Linked DNA regions of Homo sapiens: regions 1, 2, 3 and 5 are each reported to be linked to region 4. The links are microRNA targets in miRTarBase. Many come from high-throughput screens and were not tested one by one. Region 4 holds a microRNA gene; each other region holds the end of a gene's coding sequence. Distances are from middle to middle.
Evidence for each region. The annotated mature microRNA hsa-miR-5089-5p reads GUGGGAUUUCUGAGUAGCAUC and lies in region 4 at 1,946-1,966, opposite strand. An mRNA with a match to its seed (bases 2 to 7 or 8) in the 3' UTR can be bound and repressed. Matches are read on the target gene's strand: a 7mer-m8 pairs with bases 2 to 8, a 7mer-A1 pairs with bases 2 to 7 and ends in A, and an 8mer does both.

Region 1 (4,116 bases), 45 Mb from region 4:
TCTTGAACTCCTGAGCTCAACCACTCCTCCTACCTCGGCCTCCCAAAGTGCTGGGATTACAGGCGTGAGCCACCATGCCCAGCCAGCAAACATGACTTCTAGAAGTACAGACTCTGACAAAATTCTGCATTGTTTCTCTAGCTCACTATCTATACCTTTGCCTCTTGGGTTTTTATCTAATTACATTTAAATGCTCTGCTCTTATTTTCTGCTTGTGTTTAGCTCCTTCCAACTGTGTTTTCCTCAGTCTCGATGTATTTTCATCCTTTGCGCCTGTTTTTATGACTCTATGATGGAGACTTCTCACAATCCCTCTCATTTTTTTTTCACACCTGTATTTTTCCTCCTCTTTTCATTTCTGGGTTCCTGCCTCTTCTTTGTTCTTTGGATATTCAATTTTTTTTTTTGAGACGGAGTCTCACTCTGTCACCCCTGCTGGACTGCAGTGGCACTATCTCGGCTCATTATAACAACCTCGGCCTCCCAGGTTCAAACGATTCTCCTGCCTCAGCCTCCTCAGTAGCCGGGATTACGGGCGCCTGCCACCACGCCCGGCCAATTTTTTGTATTTTTAGTAGAGATGGTGTTTCACCATGTTAGCCAGGATGGTCATCTCCTGACCTCGTGATCCGCCTGCCTCGGCCTCCCAAAATGCTGGGATTACAGGCGTGACCCACCATGCCCAGCCTGGATATTTAAATTGTTCTGTGCTCTCCTCCTTTTTTTTCTCTCTGTGATTCTCTTTGTCAGCTCCTTTGCCTATATTTGCATCTCAGTTGACACCCCTGATTCTGACTTGTCCTTATCTTCCTACCAGTCTCTGCCGACCGGTTACTGTCAGCCTGTCTTTAGGGTTTGCGCTGCAGCTGTTTGTCCTTTGTCTTTCTGCCTGCCTCCAAGTCCCCATATCTCCTGGTCTCTTCTGTCAGTGAATCTTCCCACTGACTGCCTCCTCCGCCTTCTGCTTCTCAGCTCCCCGGACTCGTCCCCGCTCTTCTCTGTTCCCACCTCTCCTCTTGCTCTTCTGATCTCTCTATCTGCCAGTATTTCCTCCATCACTCCTGAGCCTGGGTGTTTCTCCTTGTCACTCACTCTATTTCACTGTCTAGACTCTCTGTGCCTTTCAGCCTTGGGGTCTCTTCTTGTCGGCCTTCATTTCTATTTTTCTGGTCCTTTTTGTTTATAACCCTTTTATCAGTTCTGTGACTTTGGTGTCTCTCAGGATCTATGACAGCCTTTCTCCATATTTCTGCTAGGGCCTGTCTCTTTTGCCCTCCATCCTTCTTTGCCTCTGTCACCTCTATGTGAATAATCCTTCTCTCTTTCTATCTATCACTCAATCTATGTATGTCTGTCTCTGTCATTCTTCGTATCTTTCTGTACCTCCGCTTCTTAGCAAGGTTTTTGTTTTGTTTTGTTTTTTTTTGAAGACAATCTTCCTGTCTCTTGCTTTTGCTCATGTAGCTTTTCTGTGGATGGCTAAGGGTTGCCTCTCTCAGTCCATTGTTTAGTGGAACAGCAGACTTAATCTGCTGGGCACTTCCCGTCACCTCGATGTTCTGGGAAGGAAGGGGTCTTGTTCAACAGAAAAAAACGCAGCAGAAGCAGCAGGGAGGAAGAAGACTTTATGAATGTATCTCAGAAAAGTCCCAGCTCTTCCTTTTTTTTTTTTCTTTAGAGACAAGAGTCTCACTCTGTTTGCCCAGGCTGGAGTGCAGTGGCACGACCTCGGCTCACTGCAACCTCTGCCTCCTGGGTTCAAGCGATTCTCCTGCCTCAGCCTCCTGAGTAGCTGGGATTACAGGCATGCACCACCATGCCCGGCTAATTTTGTATTTTTAGTAGAGACAGGGTTTCACCATGTTGACCAGGCTGGTCTTGAACTCCTGACCTCAGGTGATCCTCCCGCCTCGGCCTCCCAAAGTGCTGGGATTACAGGCGTGAGCTGCTGCGCCCAGCCAGAGGGCCAGCTATTCCTTTATCCTCCTGCAGCCTTCTCTCACACAGTCTACCTCTGCCCTTGTTCTTCCATGAAAGCCTGGGCCTGGGAAAACTCTGTACTGGGCACCTTTCCTTCTGTAATTCTAGACTTCAGTGCCGTCCTAAGAAGACAAACCAGCCCTGTGTTCATTCCTCTAAGAATCCGAATTGTCTTTGAAAAGTCAAAAGGGGTCGGGTACGGTGGCTCACGTCTGTAATCCCAGCACTTTGGGAGGCTGAGGTGGGTGGATCACTTGAGTGCAAAAGTTTGAGACCAGCCTGGGCAACATGGCAAAACCTGGTCTCTACAAAAAAATACAAAAATTAGCCTGGTGCAGTGGCGTGCACCTGTAGTCCCAGCTACTTGGGAGGCTGAGGTGGGAGGCAGGAGAATTGCTTGAGCCTGGGAGGCAGAGATTGCAGTGAGCCAAGATCAAGCCACTGCACTCCATCCTGGGCAACAGAGCAAGAACTTGTCTCAAAAAAAAAAAAAAAAAAAGAAAAGAAAAAAGAAAAGTCAAAAGATACTAAAAATAAAAATAAAAATAAAAGGCTAGACACAGCAGGACCAGGGTTAAGGAGAAAAACAGGAGTGTGCGCCTGTTCTCACGTCTGTAATCCCAGCACTCTGGGAGGCCGAGGCAGGTGGATTACTTGAGGTCAGGAGTTCGAGACCAGCCTGGGCAACATGGTGAAACCTCCTCTCCACCAAAAAATACAAAAATTAGCTGGGCTTGGTGGTGCATGCCTGAAGTCACAGCTACTCGGGAGGCTAAGGCAGGACAATCACTTGAACCCAGGAGGCTGAGGTTGCAGTGAGCCGAAATCGTGCCACTACACTCCAGCCTGGGTGACAGAGTAAGATTCCGTCTCATAAAAAAAAAGAAAAAGAAAAAGAAAAACAGGAGTGTGGCTTTGAGAACCAGAAACATCAGCAGCAATTGCTGTGGCCCAGGTTCTGTCTCTTGGCAACTATCACGTCCATCTCTGCTGCTACAGATAGCACCTCCTCTACCTTCCTCCCACTGCCAGAATTTGGTTATAGGTGAGATCTCTTTTCTCTCTGTCCCCACCCGCCCCATACCAGATCTCTCTGATCCTAGTGGGACTTCACCTTCCCCCATCTGTCCCTGGGTTAAAGCAAAGAGCTTCTGTCTCCACTGGCAGTTTCTTCCAGCTGCATGCCTCCTGCCACCCTTTACTGATAGCTCTAGCTGTACCTCTTGAGTTTATTTGCTGGAAAGGATGCTCATCTGATGACGGATTTCAGTGAACAGAAACCCAGGTTCCCACCCATCCAACATCAGCATTTCTTCTTAGATCCGAGGAAGGGGAAGGGATGTGAGTTAGCTGGAAGAGAAACTGAGATTCTGATGAGCAAGTCTGGCCCTCACCCTGATGGGGGACTGTGCATGGAAGACCCTCATCTCCTTGTCCTGGCCCCACCTCCCCCAGCGAGGGGCCCATGGCTTCTCTCTAGTCTTTCAGGCTGAGAGTCGAACTGTTGCTGGTGACAGGTCCATTGTCACGACGTGTCCTGGTCCCCCTGGTTTTCTCATGGCCAGGGCTGGGTGGATGGGGTCGAGACTGTAGGACATCATTGACCAGAATACGGATCCCCAATATGATGCTCATGATGCCCACAGTGACCAGCCCAATTCCACCCAGGGTGACCAGAGCAAGAGGAACCTGGTGGTGCTGCCGGAACAGCCACAGACTCATCCACCCCAGCGGGACCAGGCGGAAGAGGGCCAAGGTGGCCAAGGAGGCCCAGCTGGTCACGCTGAAGGCCAGGGATGGGGCCTGGCGAGAAAGCAACAGCAGCTTCCGCAGGTGCAAGCAGGCAGAGTTCAGTTCCAGGAGCAGAGACACCATGGAGAAGCCCACGTAGTGGCCAGACAGAACAGCGGTGCTGAGGCAGCTCACCACCTGGGAGCCAGGGTCACAGGTCAGAGGAACCCCATGACCTGCCAGCCATCATGTCCCAATAACCCAGGCCTGAAGAAAGAGGCTTCCACGCAGTCTGTGGGGCTCCCCAAACACCTGACCTTTATGCTTTTACCTTTATCCTGGGGCCCTGAGCAGCCTTGAAACAACCCTTCCATAGATGGAACCAGGCTTGGCCCAGGGAGGGGC
Region 2 (4,111 bases), not on the chromosome of region 4:
AAAAAAAAAGGAAAGAAAGGGATTGAAGGAGCTTGCCAAGGGTAGGCTGCCTAAATTCACATTTTCCCTGGGTCTTTCCGTGAAATGGGGACACCAGAAACCCAAGGGTCGGGTCTAGTGCCCTCAACTCTCTGGGGATGAGAGTCTTGCCTTGGGGTAGACAAGAGGCAGGGCAGGGAGGAGCAGAGCCCTGGGGTGCGGCCGTCCTCACCGCCTGTTGCTCTACTCACCCCAGTGCAAACCTTCCCGTGGCCGCAAACGTGGCATCTGCTGGTGCGTGGACAAGTACGGGATGAAGCTGCCAGGCATGGAGTACGTTGACGGGGACTTTCAGTGCCACACCTTCGACAGCAGCAACGTTGAGTGATGCGTCCCCCCCCAACCTTTCCCTCACCCCCTCCCACCCCCAGCCCCGACTCCAGCCAGCGCCTCCCTCCACCCCAGGACGCCACTCATTTCATCTCATTTAAGGGAAAAATATATATCTATCTATTTGAGGAAACTGAGGACCTCGGAATCTCTAGCAAGGGCTCAACTTCGAAAATGGCAACAACAGAGATGCAAAAAGCTAAAAAGACACCCCCCCCCTTTAAATGGTTTTCTTTTTGAGGCAAGTTGGATGAACAGAGAAGGGAAGAGAGGAAGAACGAGAGGAAGAGAAGGGAAGGAAGTGTTTGTGTAGAAGAGAGAGAAAGACGAATAGAGTTAGGAAAAGGAAGACAAGCAGGTGGGCAGGAAGGACATGCACCGAGACCAGGCAGGGGCCCAACTTTCACGTCCAGCCCTGGCCTGGGGTCGGGAGAGGTGGGCGCTAGAAGATGCAGCCCAGGATGTGGCAATCAATGACACTATTGGGGTTTCCCAGGATGGATTGGTCAGGGGGAGAAAGGAAAAGGCAAAACACTCCAGGACCTCTCCCGGATCTGTCTCCTCCTCTAGCCAGCAGTATGGACAGCTGGACCCCTGAACTTCCTCTCCTCTTACCTGGGCAGAGTGTTGTCTCTCCCCAAATTTATAAAAACTAAAATGCATTCCATTCCTCTGAAAGCAAAACAAATTCATAATTGAGTGATATTAAATAGAGAGGTTTTCGGAAGCAGATCTGTGAATATGAAATACATGTGCATATTTCATTCCCCAGGCAGACATTTTTTAGAAATCAATACATGCCCCAATATTGGAAAGACTTGTTCTTCCACGGTGACTACAGTACATGCTGAAGCGTGCCGTTTCAGCCCTCATTTAATTCAATTTGTAAGTAGCGCAGCAGCCTCTGTGGGGGAGGATAGGCTGAAAAAAAAAAGTGGGCTCGTATTTATCTACAGGACTCCATATAGTCATATATAGGCATATAAATCTATTCTTTTTCTTTGTTTTTTTCTTTCTTCCTTTCTTTCAAAGGTTTGCATTAACTTTTCAAAGTAGTTCCTATAGGGGCATTGAGGAGCTTCCTCATTCTGGGAAAACTGAGAAAACCCATATTCTCCTAATACAACCCGTAATAGCATTTTTGCCTGCCTCGAGGCAGAGTTTCCCGTGAGCAATAAACTCAGCTTTTTTGTGGGGCACAGTACTGGATTTGACAGTGATTCCCCACGTGTGTTCATCTGCACCCACCGAGCCAGGCAGAGGCCAGCCCTCCGTGGTGCACACAGCACGCGCCTCAGTCCATCCCATTTTAGTCTTTAAACCCTCAGGAAGTCACAGTCTCCGGACACCACACCACATGAGCCCAACAGGTCCACGATGGATCCACCAGTCCCACCCCAGCCTTTTCCTTTCATCTGAACAGAATGTGCATTTTTGGAAGCCTCCCTCACTCTCCATGCTGGCAGAGCAGGAGGGAGACTGAAGTAAGAGATGGCAGAGGGAGATGGTGGCAAAAAGGTTTAGATGCAGGAGAACAGTAAGATGGATGGTTCCGGCCAGAGTCGATGTGGGGAGGAACAGAGGGCTGAAGGGAGAGGGGGCTGACTGTTCCATTCTAGCTTTGGCACAAAGCAGCAGAAAGGGGGAAAAGCCAATAGAAATTTCCTTAGCTTCCCCACCATATGTATTTTCTAGGATTTGAGAGGAAAGAGAGGAAAATGGGGGAATGGGTTGCAAAATAGAAATGAGCTTAATCCAGGCCGCAGAGCCAGGGAAGGTGAGTAACTTTAGGAGGGTGCTAGACTTTAGAAGCCAGATAGGAAGAATCAGTCTAAACTGGCCATGCTTTGGAAGGGACAAGACTATGTGCTCCGCTGCCCACCTTCAGCCTGCAATGAGGGACTGAGGCCCACGAGTCTTTCCAGCTCTTCCTCCATTCTGGCCAGTCCCTGCATCCTCCCTGGGGTGGAGGATGGAAGGAAAGCTGGGACAAGCAGGGAACGCATGATTCAGGGATGCTGTCACTCGGCAGCCAGATTCCGAAACTCCCATTCTCCAATGACTTCCTCAACCAATGGGTGGCCTTGTGACTGTTCTTTAAGGCTGAAGATATCCAGGAAAGGGGGCTTGGACACTGGCCAAGGAGACCCCTTCGTGCTGTGGACACAGCTCTCTTCACTCTTTGCTCATGGCATGACACAGCGGAGACCGCCTCCAACAACGAATTTGGGGCTACGAAGAGGAATAGCGAAAAAGCAAATCTGTTTCAACTGATGGGAACCCTATAGCTATAGAACTTGGGGGCTATCTCCTATGCCCCTGGACAGGACAGTTGGCTGGGGACAGGAGAAGTGCTCAATCTTCATGAGACAAAGGGGCCCGATAGGGCCAGCAGCCACAAGGCCTTGACCTGCCGAGTCAGCATGCCCCATCTCTCTGCACAGCTGTCCCCTAAACCCAACTCACGTTTCTGTATGTCTTAGGCCAGTATCCCAAACCTCTTCCACGTCACTGTTCTTTCCACCCATTCTCCCTTTGCATCTTGAGCAGTTATCCAACTAGGATCTGCCAAGTGGATACTGGGGTGCCACTCCCCTGAGAAAAGACTGAGCCAGGAACTACAAGCTCCCCCCACATTCCTCCCAGCCTGGACCTAATTCTTGAGAGGGGCTCTCTCTTCACGGACTGTGTCTGGACTTTGAGCAGGCTTCTGCCCCTTGCGTTGGCTCTTTGCTGCCAGCCATCAGGTGGGGGATTAGAGCCTGGTGTAAGTGCGCCAGACTCTTCCGGTTTCCAAAGTTCGTGCCTGCGAACCCAAACCTGTGAGTCTCTTCTGCATGCAGGAGTTTCTCCTGGGCAGCTGGTCACTCCCCAGAGAAGCTGGGCCTTCATGGACACATGGAACTAAGCCTCCCAAATGGGAGTTCTGGCTGAGCCCAGGGTGGGGAGATCCTGGGAAGGGAGGCACTGGAGGAAGACGGCACCTCTTCCCCCATGGCAGGGTGTGAGGGAGGCAGGTTTGGAATGGTGCGAGTATGGCAATCTAAGCAGGGGTCTGGTCTCTTTGACTCCAGGCTGGCCTTTGGCCGACTGTCTGCTCACCCAGAGACCTTGGACTCCGGACTATCCATGGCTCCGAATCTAAGTGCTGCCCACTCCCATGCTCACACCCACAGAAGGTCTTCCCATCCCCTTTAGATTCGTGCCTCACTCCACCAGTGAGGAAGATGCCTCTGTCTTTCCCACGACTGCCAGGAGATAGGGAAGCCCAGCCAGGACTGACCCTCCTTCCTCCAGCCTGCCCTGACCCACCTGGCAAAGCAGGGCACATGGGGAGGAAGAGACTGGAACCTTTCTTTGACAGCCAGGCCTAGACAGACAGGCCTGGGGACACTGGCCCCATGAGGGGAGGAAGGCAGGCGCACGAGGTCCAGGGAGGCCCTTTTCTGATCATGCCCCTTCTCTCCCACCCCATCTCCCCACCACCACCTCTGTGGCCTCCATGGTACCCCCACAGGGCTGGCCTCCCCTAGAGGGTGGGCCTCAACCACCTGCTCCCGCCACGCACCGGTTAGTGAGACAGGGCTGCCACGGCAACCGCCAAGCCCCCCTCAAGGTGGGACAGTACCCCGGACCCATCCACTCACTCCTGAGAGGGCTCCGGCCCAGAATGGGAACCTCAGAGAAGAGCTCTAAGGAGAAGAAACCCCATAGCGTCAGAGAGGATATGTCTGGCTTCCAA
Region 3 (4,116 bases), not on the chromosome of region 4:
GTCAAAGGACTGCACATTGAATGTCAAGGACTGCAGTCGCTCCCTCCGTATGCTTTAGGATTTTCCTGAGATCCATAGCTCTCTTTCCCTCCCTTCTTCCAGGTGTGTGTTGGGAAACACTACCATCCTTGCTGAGTTTGCCACTGATGATGAAGTCAGCCGCTTTCTGGCACAAGCTCAGCCCCCTACACCTGCAGCAACCCCAAGTGCGCCAGCTGCGGGGTGGCAGTCGCTGGAGACCGGCCAGAACCAGTCAGATCCCGTGGGACCTGCTCTGAATCTTTTTGGTGGGTCCACTGGGCTCGGGCAGTGGAGCAGCAGCGCTGGTGGCAGCAGCGGGGCCGATCTTGCTGGCGCTTCATTGTGGGGGCCCCCAAACTATTCTTCTAGCTTATGGGGAGTCCCAACGGTGGAAGATCCCCATAGGATGGGCAGCCCTGCTCCTTTACTACCTGGTGACCTTCTGGGAGGAGGGTCGGATTCAATCTGAACTTAGAACTTTCAACTCTGACCTCGTGACCTTTTTTGGAACAGCAGCAGCACTAACTTGACCTTTTCGTTTTTTTTTTCAACTTGCAATAAATACATTTTTAAAAGGAAAAAAGAAAACGGAGAGAAAAAAAGGTGGGTCATTGACAGACTGTCTGAGCACATAGTTGCCTCCCTTATAACTTCAGTTTTTTCGTTTGGAATATGAATCCAAAAAGAGAACATATCACTCTTGAAATACTTGAATCATGAACGCCAACCTAGAAAGACAATGTGAAGCAAGTACACATACCATTTAAATTTAAACACAAAAAAATTAAAAAAATTAGTTTCTAGTTTTTCACTTTTTTCATGTTATATGGAAGTTGTTGCTAAGAAACATATATACTGAAAAAAAATAGCTTTTTAACTTTGTTTGCACTGGGTGTGTTTCCGTCCTTAGGTCTACCATGTTTGGGAGGGAGGGAAATTCAAAAGAATTGTTGGGGGAGGGGGGAGGGAAGACTTGACGGAGCCTCACTTTAAAAACAAAAACACAAAAAACCTAAAAAAAAAAAAAAGGAAAAAATTTGTGATTGGCTGGTTGATAAATACCAGTGTGTTCTGGCACATGTAACTGCCCAGGCATGCTCGTTCTGGTGTGTGTGTGCACGTGTGTTCATGTGCATTCGCGTGCATCCTTCTCTGTCTCTGTGTGTGTGCCTGTGTTCTTCCCTTCTCCCCTGCCCCACCCTGACTTCTCAGAAAGCTGCATCGCTGACAGTCTGCAGGCTGGCTGGCCGGCCCATCTGCTTTTTATTTTATTTTTTTAACTATGAGAACACACAGGCCCGGAGAGCCACTGCTACTAAAGCAACTCCATTGGGCTGCATTAAGATGAACAGAGTGCTTTTTAATGATGAAAGCAGGGAGCTCCTTTCCATTTGCAACTTAGCCTGAATGTGGGGTTTCTCTGGCTGTTCTTTTGACCTAGCAGTAGAGTGGAGCACTGCCAAGTCCAAAAAACTAGAGCAGGAGGTACCTCTTGGAGCAACGGTGTGTTTATTTCTGTTTTTTTTTTTTTTTAAGTGAATGGCCACCAGGCACATCTGAGTATCTGTTAAGTTTCATGCAGGCCTTTTCGTTAGTTTGAAATGGGAACGGAAGATAACTTTTGATGATGCGATGTCTCAAAAACAGAGAAACTTTGTTCCCTCTTTCCTTATGATCAGGTTTGAGAAATTCTTCAAAAAATTAGGTGAAGTTGAGTTACATATTTCTGTTGGTTGGTTCTCTTTTTCATTTTATGAAAACAGAAAAGAATAAGTGGTGAGCAGCCTCCTGAAAGCATCTGCAGCTACTCCCTCTGCTCCTTTCTCGCCGAGCGTTACCTGTGCCAGGCCGTGGCGCGTTACAGCACCAGGCCATCACTGACAGAAACGTTTACTTAACGAATGTTCTTAAACCAGTGTGTACTTCAAGCGTTTCCTTTTGTTTCTCTGTGTTGTGTATTTCCTGTGTATGTGGTTTTGCTTAGGCAGGTATAACTTAGCGAAGACTTTTAAGTATTGCACCTTTTTTTGATTTTTGACCTCTTCCCCCCACCTTGTAATTTTGCTTTTTTAATTTCGGTATTTAAATACTTTTTTTTTTTTTTAAGCATCAATGTAGTAGTACTCTGGGCCGAACAGGGGTCAACGTTTAATCTACAGTTATCACCAACATGTATGTACTTATGTCGGAATCAAAATGTATCAAACTGCTTATTGTGAAGAGAATTATAGCAGACCTGAAGGGGGCGAAAAACCAGATAGGGTGGGGGGATGGATGCCGGTGACGTGCTAGCACTTGTGTGGACATCCCAGTCTGCATTATGCTGTTTAACATAAAGTGCCGACATTTTGTACCAGCAAATACCTGCCCATTCCAACCCTTGGTGGGAGCAGACCTCTACTGTCCTCTGTAACTTGCTGCTATTGAGGACAAGGGAGTTTTTCTTTCTTTAGCGTCTTCAGTGAAGGATACAATACAACAATGCCTAATGTATTTGACTTTTTAGCTTGTGTCTGTGTGTAGGTGGGTGGGTGGGTGTGTATAGGAAAAGCCTAAAACAAGTTATTTGCATTTCAGTGGTTTTGTGAGACAAAGAATGGGAAATTCTGTAGCCCTTCTGGCTTACCCTGTTGATTATAAACCTAGCCTCAAAAGAGATTGACAGGCATGACTCAAGTGAGTGTTCACATATACAAGCCTGCATGAGCCCTCTGTGGGTAGGTGGTCACACTTGGCATCTGCAGCATTGACGTGGCCCCGCTGGGTGCCTTGAGCATGCCCTCTTCCTGCTCTGCAATTTGAATCACCACCGTGCCCCTTCCACCACTGTTCCCCATGCAAAAGCTCTGCTTCCAGCAGCCCCCACTGACCGCTCTCTGTGTGGAGCAAAGTGCTGTCGTGCGGTGACCACCAGGTGAAGAGCAGCTTGTATTCAGACATCTAGAGAAGGTTAAATCTTAGTGTCCCTGGGCCAGGAGCATATCCCAAGGCTCCTGCGAGCCAGTGGCGACCCTGTCCACTGCCGCTCTTGGTTCACTGCTGTGTCCTGCCCCACCCTCCTCTCCTCCTGCCTGTTGGTTCCTTGACCTGCACTATGGGTTAGTTGAGTTCCTTACGATACTACGGTGAAAGCCGGGTGCTAGAGCCCCTCTTGTTTACAAGACATAATGAGGGATTTGAAATATGTAAAAATAAACATGAGAAGCTAAAATGTTCTTCCATCATAAGCTTAAAGGGAAAAAAACTAAAAACTTTAAAAAAAAAAGACCAAAAAGTGCGTATATATATACATATAAATATATATTTTAGATGAAGACTAACTCTGGGAGCATTTAACAGTGTTTTTTGTTTCTGTTTTTAACATTTGTTTTCCTGCTTTAAAATTTGCAAGCATTCTCAGGAATTCTAGGGTAGGAAGCCAGTTTTTTGAAGATGGTTTATTTAACCATATCTTATCCTAGAGAGATGGCTGTTTCTTTCCTGTTAATAAACTTTTACAAGTTCCTGAAACTTCAGAAAGTTTAAACAATTTTTACTTAAAAAAATGTAAAAAGAAAAGTCTCCAAACATTATTGTCATACTGGGGATCACACATTTTAAAACACATAGAAATATTTTTTAAAAATTATCAATTTAGCAGCAACAGGTAAATTCATTATCTTAAAAATATGGGAGAAGGATTAAGCTTTGTAAGAGCTCGATCATGGATTCTTTTGAAATTGTGTGTAGTTTAATGGGAGAGTGTTTGGTGTATATAGATGAGAATGCCATCACTTTGTTCCTTTCCATTTGAGACTGAACTGAAATCTCCCCTAGTAATTTTTATTTTTTTAAAGGAACCCTTCTCCTTGTCCCCACAACCCCAGCAACAAAAGAAAGGAAGGAAGGAAGAAACAACAGCTTAAAAAAAAAAGTAATCTGTAAAATAGTACAGTTGGATTGCTGAGAATCTATGTAAAGAGTTAGGAAATATAGGTTAATAATTTTTGGAACAAATTTTAAATATAGGCATTACTAGAGGAAAATTATCTATGGACTGTCCTATTAATGAAGAATGTCTGTCTTACCTCCGTTTGTTTTGGGAGGAGGAGAAAA
Region 4 (4,116 bases):
AAAAAGAAAATAGTAATTCATATTTGAAAAGCATTTGCAGTTTTCAGAGTACTTTCATAAGCATGACGAAAATAGTAGCGAATGCCTAATATGCCAAACACTGAGCTTCCACTCCCTCGAAGAAGGTTTTGTAGCTCCTCCCATTGTACAGATGAGGAAACTGAGGCTCCAAGAGGTTGCCTGAGGTAGCGCAGCTAGAAAGGGGCAGAGCTGGGATTCAAATCAGTTTCACTTGAGATGACCTTTTTTTTTTTTTTTTGAGAGAGAGTCTTGCTCTGTCCCCCAGGCTGGAGTGCAGTGGTGCGATCTGGGCTCACTGCAAGCTCTGCCTCCCGGGTTCACGCCATCCTCCTGCCTCAGCCTCCCGAGTAGCTGGGACTACAGGCGCCCGCCACCACGCCCAGCTAATTTTTTGTATTTTTAGTAGAGACGGGGTTTCACCGTGTTAGCCAGGATGCTCTCGATCTCCTGACCTTGTGATCCACCCGCCTCGGCCTCCCAAAGTGCTGGGATTACAGGCGTGAGCCACCGCGCCCGGCGGAGATGACCTCCTTTGCTCCCCACAACACATTGGTAAGAGGAGCAGATGCTCCTCTAATTTCCTGTTTATAGGAGAGGAAATTAAGATTCTGTTTACTGATCTTGTCCAAGCTCATTCATTCCACCGGTGTCTATTGTAAATCTCCTGTGGGCTAGGCACTGTGCCAGGCACTGGGTGAGCAACGGATGGCAGACCTAGCGTCTGGCCCTGGCCAGCGCCCCAGAAACCCTGGCACTTGCTTTGCTCCCCAGGTAGCTGGTTCCATGCGTCTCAGGGCCTAGGTCAAATCCCCCACATCCTGTCCTCTGAGTCGGGGATAGTACTTCTGGGGTCAGCTGTGCCTTCACCAGCAAGATGTCCCCTAGAACGGGGGAAGTAGGGAGGGCTTACATCACCACATCCACTTACTTTCTTACTTACTTGTCTAAGCCAAGTTCACATAGAGGGGTGCACGGCTGTGGCTGCTGGGGGTCGCCCTCCCCAGACCCCAACTCAGTAGTAGATGGAAAGAAGCCTTGAGCTTTGGGGGTGGCTTCAGAGGCAAAGAATGGAGCATGCGAGGTGGCGGGTACAGCAGAAATGGCCCCCATCCAGCATTCCAGTTTGGGGGAAAGGTATACGTGTACACATGTGTCGCACGCATGCACACACATTTAATAAAAAGGACTTAAGTGGGATTTCCGAGTAGTATCTCTTGAGTGCAGATTCTTGTCAAGAAAGCAAGATTCTTTCTTGTCAATAAAGATCACAGCAGATACACGGGGTGTCCAGGACAGCAAACCCCAGCTCGGCAGACGGGGCAGGTGTCCCAGCCTCTGAGATGACAGCATTGCGGGGTGTTCTGAGGCAGCGCCTGCTCACCCTTGCAGTCATAGTTCTATTACTTAGACTTGAGATCCCATGATAAGTGCACTCCAGTCCATGGATAAGGAGAGTTTAACCCATGGGGAACGCTAGATCTCAACAATTTTCAACAACGAAGCAACAGAGGCTAGGTGTGGTGGCTCATCCCTGTAATCCCAGTAATTTGGGAGGCTAAGGTGGGCGAATCACTTGAGCCCACGAGTTCGAGACCAGCCTGGGCAACACAGTGGGACCCCCATCTATATGGCAAAAAAGAAAAAAGAAAAGAAAAAGAAAAAAGCAGCAGCAGAGTGAGAGTGAGCAAGCCAGCTGTCATATGAGATTGTCATCTGGTTGTGTGGTTAGATAATGGGCTCAAGGTCACACTCAGCTAATGAGTGGCAGAGGCAGTGGGTACAGCAGAAATGGCCCTCATCCGGCATTCCAGTTTTGGGGGCAAGGTATACGTGTACACATGTGGGTTGCACACATGCACACACATTTAATTAAAAGGACTTCAGTGGGATTTCCGAGTAGCATCCCTTGAGTGCAGATTCCAAGGATGCTACTCAGAAATCCCACTGAAGTCCTTTTTATTTGACACTTTCCCACCTGGCTAAGTTAGAGGGAATACTACAAGAAGTTTTACACTCCTAATAAACTTGACGTACAAGACCTAGGTTTGCATGTCAGTGCCAGTATTTTTTAGGTGTGTCTTATGTCGCTCTCCTAATGCTGGGTGCTAAGGAAGTTGCAGAGGTGAAGGCAACTCAGGCTCTGCCCTCGAGATGCTAATAATATGACTGCAGAGACGCTCGTCCACACGGGAGATTGAGTGCTGCCATCCTCTGTGCCTCAATAATTTCTTTTTGGGTAGCCAGCGTCAGCCAGTGGGGTACAGGGTTTGGGGCTACAGAGCAGCTGTAAACCCGGGTTTCTCCTGGGGCTCACTTTGCAGGGGAGTGCCTGGGCAGAAAGCCCGGGACATGGAACCTGTATGTTGACAGCAATGCAGCCAGATGGGCAGAGGCCAACATCCGTCACCAACGGTCACATTGTGCAGACTGCTGGTTCCCTGCTGAGCTGGGGAGGCTGACAAACCTGAATTCCACCTTGTGCTCCAAAGCTGAGGTTCAGCAAGGGCTCGGGGTGCCCAGTGTGCAACCCTTTGCTGGGAATCCTTTCCTGTCCCAGGTTCTCCTTCCCTCTTGGCCAAGAGCCAGAGCTCCTTGCAGGGACTTCTTCCCACTATAGCTGGACTAGAAATGAAGAAGGGAGAGGAGGAGGAGGAGAAAGAAGGGGGAAGAGGAAGCATATGAAAGGACAGCAGGGAGAAGATGGGATGGAAGGAGAAGGGAAGAGAGGAGGAAGAAGCGGGTGGCGGGAGAAGCAAAGCAGGAAGCCAGGGTCTCGCCTCCTGCCCCAGCCCAGCCCCAGGGTTCTGTCAGCACACAGCCTGGGCCCAGCACAGTGCCCACCACAGCAGGCTGTCCCCTCCGGGTGTCTCTATAGAACATAAAGCGGGGAAGCAGCAACACTGAGGGTGATTATGGTTGAGACAGTTCCCTGTCTTGGGAAGGTCCCCCCTCTCCCCCACGTGCCCTGTGCCCTCTGCCTACCCCACCAGCCCCAGGCCTGGCTGTAAGTGTGACCCTTCCTCAGAGCCAGGCCCTGTGCCCTGCCTTTCTCTCTACTTCCTAAAGCTTCCCCCTTGCCGGGGAGGGAGAGGTGCCCAACAGGTGTGGCCCAGAACACAGAAGAAAAACATGCACACAGAACAAACACATGTTAGATGGGTGAGTGGGGGCCTGGTGAGGTGTGCACAGAACCACAGAGCTTGAGGCGTGAGAGACAAGTCTTTGATACAGGCAGGTCGGGGTGCAGGACTTCCCTCCACACTTTCCAGTCATCAGAGAAAGTCGCTTCACCTTCCAAGGCCTGTTTCTTCATCTGTAAAGTGAGGTACTCTAGCTGAGCTCTCTAGGTGGTTGGAAAGTTTAAGTGAGAAAGTGCATGAAAAGCTCCTACATGTACATACATGTATTCATGGAGCCATGCAGCTTTGCCAGGATCTGTGTGGGGTTCAAGGTCAGCAAAGGATATAGTTAGGCCAGGCTAGGGTGGGGCACTGGGTCACAGAGCCCCTAACCCAGCACTGGAGGAGAGCCAAGCCATGCCAGGACCTTGACTATCAGCTCAGAAGAGACTGCAGAAGCCATGGAGTGTGTCCTTATTATATTTTTCCTTTTTAATTAATTAATTAATTAATTTTGAGAAGGAGTCTCGCTCTGTTGCCCAGGCTGGAGTGCAGTAGTGCGATCTCAGCTCACTGCAACCTCTGCCTCCCAAGTTCAAGTGATTCTCCTCCCTCAGCCTCCCAAGTAGCTGAGATTACAGGCACCCACCACCATGCCTGGCTCATTTTTATATGTTAGTAGAGATGGGTTTTCACCATGTCGGCCACGCTGGTCTCAAACTCCTGACCTCAAATGATCCACTGTAAGTGCTGGGATTACAGGCATGAGCCACCGCACCGGCCTATGTTTTAAAGCGATGATACAAGTAATTAACATTTATAGCAACAAAAAAAAGAAAAATGTTGGCAAACAGTAGCCACATTCCTGCAACCTAGAAGGAATCACTATTAATCCTTTGGCATGCAGCCTTTCATATTTTGAGGGATCGATAGAATTAGGTTTGAGATTTTCTCCAGAAAATGTTATTCTAGCATA
Region 5 (4,116 bases), not on the chromosome of region 4:
TGCAGTAAGCTGAGATTGTGCCACCGCACTCCAGCCTGGGGGATAGAGCAAGCTTCTTTCCCCAAAAAATAAATAAATAAATAAATAATCAGTCTGGTTACAGTGTGGGGATATAGGATGGAGGGGACAGAGTTGAGGCAGGGAGAGACCAATGGGGGTCATGGCAGTCACCTAAACAAGAACTGGTGGCCTGGACTGAGTTGGTGGCAGTGGAGTTCGGTTGAAGTTGGCAGTGTGACCGCTAAGTTAAATCCACAGAACTTGCTCAGGAAAAAGGTCAGGTCGAGAATAACTCATAGGTTTTCAGTTTGGGCAGTTGACACAATGCTGCTGTGTCTTTTGGTAGGATGGGGAAACCTGGGGTGGTGGAGTGAACAACGGCCACCCAGAGAGAGCAGGTCCTAATTCCTAGAGCCTGGAAATGTCACCTTCTATGGAAGAGATCTGTAGGAGTGATCAGGGGAAGGATTTGGAGAGAAGGTTATCCTGGATTATCTGGGCAGGTCCTGCATGGCATCACAAGTATCCCTATAAGAGAGAGGCAGAGGAAGGCCTCTCTTATAGGGAGAAGCGCAGTGGGTCACACCTGTAATCCCAGCACTTTGGGAGACTGAGGCTGGTGGATCCCTTGAGCCCAGGAGTTCACAACCAGCCTAGCCAACATGGTGAAACCACGTCTCTACTAAAAACACAAAAATTTGCTGAGTGCACGCCTGTAATCCCAGCTACTCAGGGGGCTAAGTTAAGGGAATTGCTTGAACCTGGGAAGTGGCGGTTGCAGTGAGCCGAGATCACACCACTGCACTCCAGCCTGGGCAACAGAGTGAGACTCTGTCTCAAAAAACAAAAAATAAGAGAGAAGCAGAGGAAGATTAGACCGGCACATACAGAAAAGGCCACGTGAAGATGGAGGCAGAGATTGGAATGATGCGGTCACAGGCCAGGAAACACCAGGGCATGGCAGCCACCACCTGAAGCTGAAGAGGAAAGGGGCAGGTTTTCCCCGACAGTCTCCAGAGGGAGCGCGGCCTTGCCGTCATCGTGATCTTGGACATCTGGCCTTCAGAACCATGAGAGATTAAATTTGTTTGAAGCCACCAAGTTTGTGGTCATTTGTTACAGTAGCCACAGGACACCACAGCCACAGGATAAATCTCAGGGATGGGGGAGTAGGAAGATCATGAGCGCGGTTTTGGACATGCCCTTGACGTCCAGGCGGAGCTGCTGAATGGCTGGAGCGCTACTGGATGTGGCCTGTAAGGGACGGGTCTCCCGGAGAGGGAACTTCTGAGTCATCCCTGTGGAAGTGATGACTGGAGCTATGGGTGTGGAGGGGTAGACAGCCAGAAGAGGAGCCTGGAGGCCCTCAGACCATAAGTGGTGAGGACGAGAGGCTGAATCCTCAAAGGAGACCGAGGAGAGGCAGGAGGAGAGGCAGGGCTGTGGGGAGGCTGAGGGTTGCTGTTCACCCCTGCTAGGCTCCCTCATGCCCTCTCACTGGTCTGTGCACCCAGTTTGACTTCCAGTGGCCAGAGCCAGCATCTTGGTTAGAAGGCTACCCCGGAGCTTCCAGGACCCACTTAGCCTATGAGTATCGTGAATCAAAGGGTTATGGGAGGCTAAGCACAGTGGCTCACACCTATAATCCCAACACTTTGGGAGGCCAAGGTGGGAGGATTGCTTGAGGCCCAGACCAGCCTGGGTAACATAGCAAGATCCCATCTCTACTAAAAATTTAAATATTAGCTGGGTATGGTAGCAGACACTTGTCGTCCCAGCTACTCAGGAGGCTGAGGCAGGAGGATCACTTGAGCCTGGGAGGTCAAGGCTGCAGTGAGCTACAGTTGCACCACTGCGCTCCAGCCTGGGTGACAGAGCAAGATCCTGTCTCTAAAAATAAAGACTCAAGGCTGGGCACGGTGGCTCACGCCTGTAATCCCAGCACTTTGGGAGGCCGAGGCAGGCGAATCATTTGAGGTCAGGAGTTCGAGACCAGCATGGTCAACATGGCAAAACCCCATCTATATTAAAAATAAAAAAATTAGCTGAGCATGGGGTGCACACCTGTAATCCCAGCTACTCGGGAGGCTGAGGCAGGAGATCACTTGAACCTGAGAGGTGTAGGTTGCAGTGAGCTGAGATCGTGCCACTGCACTCCAGCCTGGGTGACAGAGCGAGACTCCATCTCAAAAAAAAAAAAAAAAAAAGCAGACTTGAGCATAAAGTGCTGGGATTATAGGCATGAGCCACCATGCCCGGACTTTTTTTTTTCTTGTTTTCTTTTCTTTTTTTTTTGAGATGGAGTCTTGCTCTGTCACCCAGGCTGGAGTGCAGTGGAGCAATCTCAGCTCACTGCAACCTCCACCTCCCAGGTTCAAGAGATTCTCGTGCCTCAGCCTCCCGAGTAGCTGGGATTACAGGTATGTGCCACCACACCCAGCTAATTTTTGTATTTTTCATAGAGACAGGGTTTCACCATGTTGGCCAGGCTGGTCTTGATCTCCTGACCTCAAGTCATCCTTCTGCCTTGGCCTTCCAAAGTGCTGGGATTACAGGTGTAAGCTGCTGTGCCCAGGCTCTGTGCCTTCATTTAAACCCATGTCTCCTGACCAAATTGTCTCTAAGACTAAAAGAAATGTGAGAAACAAGGAGTCTCCCATAAACAGGGAGTGAGGAAGGCTTGGGAACTGCACGTGTTCGTTTGTTGGGTCTAGAACATGGATCCGCTCTCTTCCCACAATCTGCAGAGCAAGTTTCAGGCAGGGCTGATACTGCCTGCTGCGCAAGGGTGAGGACGGTAAGCAAGGGATGCCTGGTGCTCCTGGATGTTGCTTCTGGCCATTTCCCACCTCTCCCAGCTCCCACTCCTCCTGATATCCTGCCTTACATCCAGCCACCCTGAACTTCTCATAACCAGAGTCCGCACGCCACTCCCCCTTTTACAGGACTGTTCCCTCGGCTTGCCTGGCAAACTCGGGTCCTGGGCCCTTCTCAGCCATCAGGCGTGTGCCCCTCTGCCAGGCCTCCCAGACACCTGCTCCTCCTCTAGTGTTTTGTTTTCTGAGACAGGGTCTCGCTCTGTCACCCAGGCTGGATCATGCAGTAGCATGATCATGACTCACTGCAGCATCAAACTTTGGGCTCAAGCAATCCTCCCATCTCAGCCTTATGAGTAGCAGGGACTATAGGCGCATGCCACCATGCCCAACTAATTTTTTTATTTTTGTATTTTTTGTAGAGACGGGGGTGTTACTACATTGGCCAGGCTGGTCTCGAACTCCCGGCCTCCAGCAATACTCCTGCCTTGGCCTCCCAAAGTACTGGGATTGCAGGCATGAGCTACCCTCCTCTAGTATTTCTGTAGCTTGAGTGAACTTCTGCTGTTCTAGGTACCCACAGTTCACCATCTGCCTCCCCACCTGTCTGCGAGACCCTTGAAGGCAGGGACGTGACTTTCCTCTATCTTCCCCAGGCTCAGTTATAGAGCCAGCTATAGGCAGCTGCTTGGGAGGCGCTGGTTAAGCTGAATGGAGGAACCAGTGGAGCTGAGATGCCCGTGCCCGCAGCCACCAGACCCTGGCTGAGCTCTCTCCAAGGTTATTACCTGGAGGCCATGGAGTGGAACTTCTGGAAGGCAAGAGAGAGGGAGGTTAAGGCTAGAAGGTGGGAAGCCAGGGCACTGTTGGGAAGGGGAAGGCCCTGGCGGGTATGGGGATGGGACGCCTCCCTGTCCACTCACCCAGATGAACTCATGGTGGTCCTCATTGCCGAACTGTTCCAGCACACACTCGGCTTGGGCCAGCCGCTCCCGGGTTCCCTGGGCCTGCTCCAGCTGCATGTCCAGGGAGGCCACCAGGCCACGGGTGTGACCCCCTATCCCCTCCAGGCAGCGGGCCTTCTCCTCGTCCACCGGGTGGCGCAGCTCCTGGAACTCGCGGCGGATCACCCAGCTGAAGACATCCGACTCATTCTGGGACAGGGAGGGCTGCTCACTGCAGAGTCACAGCCGAGCTGCCAGGCTCTGTCTGGCTGGCCTCGGTGTCCCCAGGGCCTTCCTGACCGGGTTGGTCCTGGGACCTGAGTCTCAGGGGAGGCTGCATGGCCTGGCGCCGGGCA

Region 1: the mRNA of TLCD2 is a reported target of hsa-miR-5089-5p. Seed matches in the 3' UTR shown: 7mer-m8 at 1,928-1,934, 7mer-m8 at 1,794-1,800, 7mer-m8 at 656-662 and 7mer-m8 at 52-58.
Region 2: the mRNA of IGFBP5 is a reported target of hsa-miR-5089-5p. Seed matches in the 3' UTR shown: 7mer-A1 at 2,859-2,865.
Region 3: the mRNA of TNRC6B is a reported target of hsa-miR-5089-5p. Seed matches in the 3' UTR shown: 7mer-A1 at 3,003-3,009.
Region 5: miRTarBase lists TRIM73 as a target of hsa-miR-5089-5p. Seed matches in the 3' UTR shown: 7mer-m8 at 3,322-3,328.

The regions. Positions count from the first base shown.
Region 1 is chr17:1,704,314-1,708,429 of GRCh38, forward strand. TLCD2 (TLC domain containing 2) reads right to left here. Exons shown (of 4, transcript NM_001164407.2): 4 at 1-3,909. The coding sequence ends at 3,457. Among named protein-coding and RNA genes, the nearest start is that of TLCD2, 4.0 kb to the right of the region's middle.
Region 2 is chr2:216,673,007-216,677,117 of GRCh38, reverse strand. IGFBP5 (insulin like growth factor binding protein 5) reads left to right here. Exons shown (of 4, transcript NM_000599.4): 4 at 236-4,111. The coding sequence ends at 367. Among named protein-coding and RNA genes, the nearest start is that of IGFBP-AS1, 19 kb to the left of the region's middle.
Region 3 is chr22:40,322,752-40,326,867 of GRCh38, forward strand. TNRC6B (trinucleotide repeat containing adaptor 6B) reads left to right here. Exons shown (of 23, transcript NM_001162501.2): 23 at 103-4,116. The coding sequence ends at 490. Among named protein-coding and RNA genes, the nearest start is that of ADSL, 22 kb to the right of the region's middle.
Region 4 is chr17:46,970,877-46,974,992 of GRCh38, reverse strand. It overlaps MIR5089 (microRNA 5089), which reads right to left and starts at 1,976; the gene lies at 1,893-1,976. It also overlaps a transcript of LRRC37A2 not described here and a transcript of GOSR2 not described here.
Region 5 is chr7:75,404,693-75,408,808 of GRCh38, reverse strand. It overlaps TRIM73 (tripartite motif containing 73), which reads right to left. Exons shown (of 5, transcript NM_198924.4): 4 at 3,740-3,970; 5 at 3,204-3,627. The coding sequence ends at 3,601. LOC124901676 (a long non-coding RNA gene) reads left to right here. Exons shown (of 2, transcript XR_007060389.1): 2 at 1-1,101. Among named protein-coding and RNA genes, the nearest start is that of TRIM73, 11 kb to the right of the region's middle.